Linked DNA regions of Homo sapiens: region 2 is linked to region 1. The links come from fine-mapping of genetic effects on gene expression. A gene starts in region 1. The other region holds a variant in brackets. All regions are shown on one strand. Distances are from middle to middle.

What was found. PIP is the estimated chance that this variant, and not a neighbour inherited with it, causes the effect.
Region 2: its variant is fine-mapped to the expression of RPGRIP1L in vagina (GTEx, PIP above 0.99).

Annotation. Positions count from the first base shown.
Region 1 is chr16:53,702,297-53,704,796 of GRCh38, reverse strand. It overlaps RPGRIP1L (RPGRIP1 like), which reads left to right and starts at 938. Exons shown (of 27, transcript NM_015272.5): 1 at 938-994. It overlaps FTO (FTO alpha-ketoglutarate dependent dioxygenase), which reads right to left and starts at 641. Exons shown (of 9, transcript NM_001080432.3): 1 at 568-641. The coding sequence starts at 612. RefSeq lists enhancers at 419-828, 443-943 and a silencer at 979-1,028.
Region 2 is chr16:53,814,615-53,817,638 of GRCh38, reverse strand. All of the region lies in intron 2 of FTO (FTO alpha-ketoglutarate dependent dioxygenase), which reads right to left. Among named protein-coding and RNA genes, the nearest start is that of FTO, 110 kb to the right of the region's middle. The variant T/C (reference allele first, on the strand shown) is at 1,381.

The DNA of each region.
Region 1 (2,500 bases):
TGCTTTTTAAAATCTCTGTTGCCATTATTATGGTCATCCCATGGAATGGCAACTACCAGAAGCTGAACATCAAAGGTAGAGAGGAGCAATGTAGTTAAAGATTCATATCCACAGCGCTAAAAGACACAAACTGTTATCAGCCGGTCACGGAGACAATTGTTCCAAAGAAACACAGCTGACTGCACAGATATTTCATCTAAGCCGATCTCAGTCCTCAGAGACCATTATGAGAAAGCACAGCTGGTATGATCACAGTCATCTGAGAATCCGGTAAACTGAGGCACAGGGATGGCGACAAATTTAACCAAGGAATAGATGCAGAAGAAGGACAAGGAAATGGGTATCTTGCTTCTCATTTTTGAGCCGATCCAACAAGACTCGGCCTGCATCCTGAAGAGCACGAATTTGTAACATCCCCTCTAATATCTCCAGGTCCCTTGCTGACAAGGCCCTGTCATCCCTTAGTTTAACACCGCGCATCCGCTCGCCATCAAACCAAGCCCTTCCGGTTCCCTGATCCTTGCTCACAGCGCACGAAGATCTCCAGGCCCCGGGAGCCCGACATACCTTAGCTTCGCGCTCTCGTTCCTCGGCAGTCGGGGTGCGCTTCATGCTGCCACTAAAGCCGCCTTCGCCACCGCAAGCTGCGTAGATCCCTCGCCCTGGACCCCGCCTCCTGCATGTAGTTCTCTCAGCGTCCTGCTCCCGTCTGGAGCTATTCTCCCTCTGAGTAGAAAAAACTACAACTCCCAGGATGCACCGCGGCGACACCCGCGAGCGCCACGGGATTTAGCACAGGAGAATTTCCCAGGTCCGACAGCTGGAAGAGCGTAGTCCGCTACCCCGCGAGCAAACAGGCTAGAGTCCAAGGAGAACTACATTTCCCAGGAGGCTACGGGAGCCTGCCATGTTTCTCCCGTGCTCCTCTCGGCCAGCCGCCCGCCACGCTGTCGGCGCTATAGCAACGGTAGCTAGCTGCAGGGCCAGTGGCACGGTGAGTACCCGGGAGGATGGGGGAGGATGAGGGTGGGTGGAGGTTGCTGACCCTCCCCACTGCAGCGCGGGCCGGGGTCCTAGGGTCCGCTCTGCCGCCTGGAGAAGGCCCTGGAGTTGGCCCTGGAGTTCTGCTGGCGTGAAAGCAGCCCAGCCCAAGACACCTCCACATCCTCAGGCCTGAATCACAGGCCGCCCTTTATCCCCACGTCCAGGACCAATTTGAAATGTTATATCCCAGCCATGAAGGTGAGAGTTGATGCTGCTAATTGCCATCTCTATCCAGATCCTGCAAGTTGTAGGTCCCTAACACAGTTTGCTCATTTGCCCTGGATTAGGAGTTGGTTGGTAGACCCTAAACCTCCTGAGTGGTCTATTGTTTGCTTAATTATATATTATTTGTTTATCATGTGATTACCTCCATAACTTGCTAGCTTCATAAAGGCGGGGGTTTTGCTTGCCATTTTAATCTCAGTACCTGATATTCATTTATTCATTCAATAAATATTTTTTCTTTATTCTTTTTTTTGTGTGTGTGACAGGTTCTTGCTCCGTTGCCCAGGCTGGAGTGCAGTGGTAAGACCTCAGCTTACTGCAAACTCCTCCTCCCAGGTTCAAGCGATTCTTCTGCCTCAGCCTCCCGAGTAGCTGGGATTACAGGCGTGTGCCACCACACCCAGCTAATTTTTGTATTTTTAGTAGAGACAGGGTTTCATCATGTTGGCCAGGCTGGTCTCGAACTCCTGGCCTGAAGTCAGCCGCCCGTCTCGGCCTCGCAAAGTGCTGGGATTACAGGTGTGAGCCACCACGCACAGCCAATCATTCAATAAATATTAATGTTGGTTCCCACCCTGTACCAGGCACTGTTCCTGAACAGTTGTGAACAAGACTAATACCCGTCTCAAGATGTTTATCCTTTTTTAGTGGAGACAAACAATAATTTTATCTGATAACTTCAGATAGAGGCAGTTGCTATAAGAGATACAAGCCATGCTTGGTGGCACGCACATGTAGTTCCAGCTACTCGGGAGGCTGAGGTGGGAGGATCACTTGAACCCATGAATTCAAGGCCAGCCCGGGCAACATAGCAAGACCCTGTCTCAAAAAAAAAAAAAAGAAAAGAAAAGAAATAAACAGTGAAGAAATGTAAGGAAGACTACTCTAACATAGGATGGTCAGGGAAAACCTGTCTGAGGAAGTGAACTGAGCTCCAAAGATTAAGGAACCAGCTAATACAAAGGCCTTGAGCAAGACAAGGGTATGGGGGGTTCGAGGAAAGTAAAGAATAATGTAAGTGAAGCATAGTGAGCAAAGAAGGATAACATAAGATGGTGTTGGAGAGGCATTGCAGCATTGTGCAGGGTTTTTCAGCTTCTACACTATTATTAACATTTTGGGCTGGATAATTCATTATTATGTCTCCTAAGCACTGTAAGATATTTAGCATCATCCATGGCCTCTACTCACTAGATGCCAGTAGCATCCCGCTTCCTTGTTGTGACAACCA
Region 2 (3,024 bases), 110 kb before region 1:
TACCAGAGGCTCACTTAAATGAAGCCCAGTGGAACTCAACCTTGGGTAGAGAGAAAAAAAAAATTTAAATATTCAAGTAACTTGGGAAATACCCTTCACTTAGAAGTACTAGAATATTCTGATTTTAGAGGACTGTATTTCTAATCTAGCTGTTAATAGATTTTGCTCCTAACACTTTCTATTTTGCACTCAGCAATTTGCACCCTATCACTCATTTTCTATATAATTTTTGTTGTAAAATGCTTGCGACTTGGCAGCCATCCGATGACTAACGGGCTAAACACTCGTCTGACCCAGACTCTGCCTGCATGATGCAAACTAGAGCTCCAGAAGGGATACACTTCTGGAGTCACTGTTCAGACTCTGCCACAGCTATCACAAGACTTGAGGTAACATGTGCTTTGCTACAAAATGACACAGAGATCCTCGTTCATTCATTCATTCATTCATTCAATACTTCATTTCATTTTGTTTATTTAACATTTCTCAAATACTTCCTATGTACCAGGCACTGTATAAAGTGCCAGACATACAAGGATTAAAAGAAGATAGGTCCTATTTGACAGCATCTCATAATTTAACAGTATAAACCAAAATGGAAACCAAAAGAGAAGAATGTCCTACAATAGAAGTGTGAGTATACTGCTGTGGGAGCAGGGAATAATTGGGAAGGAAAAGCTGGAAAACCCTTAGGTACTGAATACATATGTATTGAGCACATACTATTTGCAAAGCACTTGGGTGCTGAGAATATGGAAGAGAGCGAAACGTCTATTTTCTCTCTAGAAGCTCATGTCCTAGCAAGGTGAGCCAGACAATAAGCATATAAATAAGTAAAATATACGGTATTTTAGATGATGATAAGTCTACGGGGAAAAATAAAGCCGAGAAAGTAGGATAGGGAGTGCTGGGGTAAGTATGCCTACTTTCCACAGGGTGGTAAGGGAAGGCCTCTAGATACAGTGACATCAGAGCAGAAGAAAGCAAGAAACAAGGATACAATATCTGCAGATGCCTGGGGGGATGAGAGAGTTCCAGGTTGAGGGAACATTCAGTGCAAAGGCCTTGGGGCAGGAGTGAGCTTGGTTTATTCCAGGAAGAGTAAAGTGCCAGAATAGGAAGAAAAGTGTGAGGGGGGGTGGGGAGTGGGCAGGGGCAGGAAATGAGGTGAGGGAAGCAGTTAGGAACCCAAGCATGTAGAGCTTTGTGGGTGCATGTCAGGTCCTAGGCTGATGGGAAGCTATTCAAGGGCTTTGAGCAAGAAAGTGTAATGAGCTGATTTATGTTTTCAAAGATCATTCCGGATGCTGTGTTAAACTAGACCAGGGGAAGGAGGCAGAACCAGTCAGGAGGCTGTTGCAACAGAGATGATGGCAGTTT[T/C]GGCCACGGTGTAAGAAGCAGAGGTGGTGAGAAGCAGTCAGATTTTTCATACATTTTAGAACAGAAGGGATTTTCTGAAGCCTTCACAGAACATGTAGTGTTTAAGTAAAGTCTTTAAGAGTAGATGCTCACCAGACAGAAAAGGGAAGAGAGTACTAGTGGGCACAAAGGCAAGGAAGGATAAGAGGGCACAGCAGAGTCAGGGTGGAACCAAGAACTCCCTATGACGAGAGTTTATGATTGGGCGCCATTTTAGGCCATGGGATGAGATTACACCAGAGAGGTAGTTTAGGGTCAGAAAGTCAATGGCAGCTGGGTGCAGTGGCTCACACCTGTAATCCCAGCACTTTGGGAGGCCGAGGCAGGCGGATCACTTGAGGTCAGGAGTTTGAGACCAGCCTGGCCAACAAGGCGAAACCCTGTTTCTACTAAAAATACAAAAATTGGCCAGGCATGGTGACGCGCGCCTGTAGTCCCAGCTATTCGGGAGGCTGAGGCAGGAGAATCGCTTGAACCTGGGAAGCGGAGGTTACAGTGAGCCAAGACCGCACCACTACATTCCAGTCTGGGTGACAGAGCGGGACTCTGTCTCAAAAAAAAAAAAAAAAAAAAAAAAAAAAAACAAGAAAGTCAATGGCCTTATAGGGTGGATATGCTGAGGAATTTGAACTTGATCTTGGAAGCAAAGGCGACTCAACAAAATTTATAAAACAAGGAGGTACAAGTCAGTTCTGATGGCACTGGGGAGGGCATGAGGAACGCTAATCAGGAGGATGCTAAAACTGCGGAGGCAGAAAGTGATCAATGTGGCCTACATAGTTGAGGCAGTGTCTGTGGGATGGAAAAAGAAAAAACAATTTGAGAGATTCTAAAGAGGTAAAACCACCAGGGACCCAGTGACTAAATGAGGGAAGAAAGCAATGGATAGAAGTTGAGGGTGGTGAGCTTTCTAATCTCAAGAATGGGACTAGGGGATACCGTTAGAGAAGAGGCTGAATGGGAAGAGCCTTGTAGAAAGAATCCTTATTAAAATGTAAGTGACATCCTGTCACGCTTTGCTCCAAGCCTTCTCATGCCTCCTCATCTCAGAGTAACCGCCAATGCTCTTCTTACAGAACTTACAGACTATAAGTTCTCGTATAACCGGGCCTCTCTCTCTCTCTCTCTCTCTCTCTGACCGTCTCCCCTGCTCTCACCAGCTGTCTCCCTCTGCTCCAGGTATGTTGGCCTCGGGTGCTTTTCCTGTCAAGTATACCTGAGGCTTTGCTGTTCTGTAGGCCCAGAACATTCTTCCAACAAGTATCTACATGGCTTGCTCCTACATCACCTGCCCCACAAGAAATAAGCTCAAAGAAGACACGAATCTCTTGTCAGTTTTCACAACTTCATTTCTAATGCCTAAAACAGTACCTGGCACAGAGTCGGGGAGTGAAATCCATTTGTTTAATGGAGTAAGTAACTTAATGAATATGAATCATGTTGAGTTAGATGTAGCTGGAAGACTTTCAGGTAGAGCCACTCCGTAGGCAGTTGGAAGTGGAGAGCTGGAGGTCACAGGGAGAGCTGGGATGGGGACAGAGGTCTGGAACCTTTGAGACAAGAGCAGAGTTATCTCAGAAGGATGAAGAGACACAAGGGAAGAGA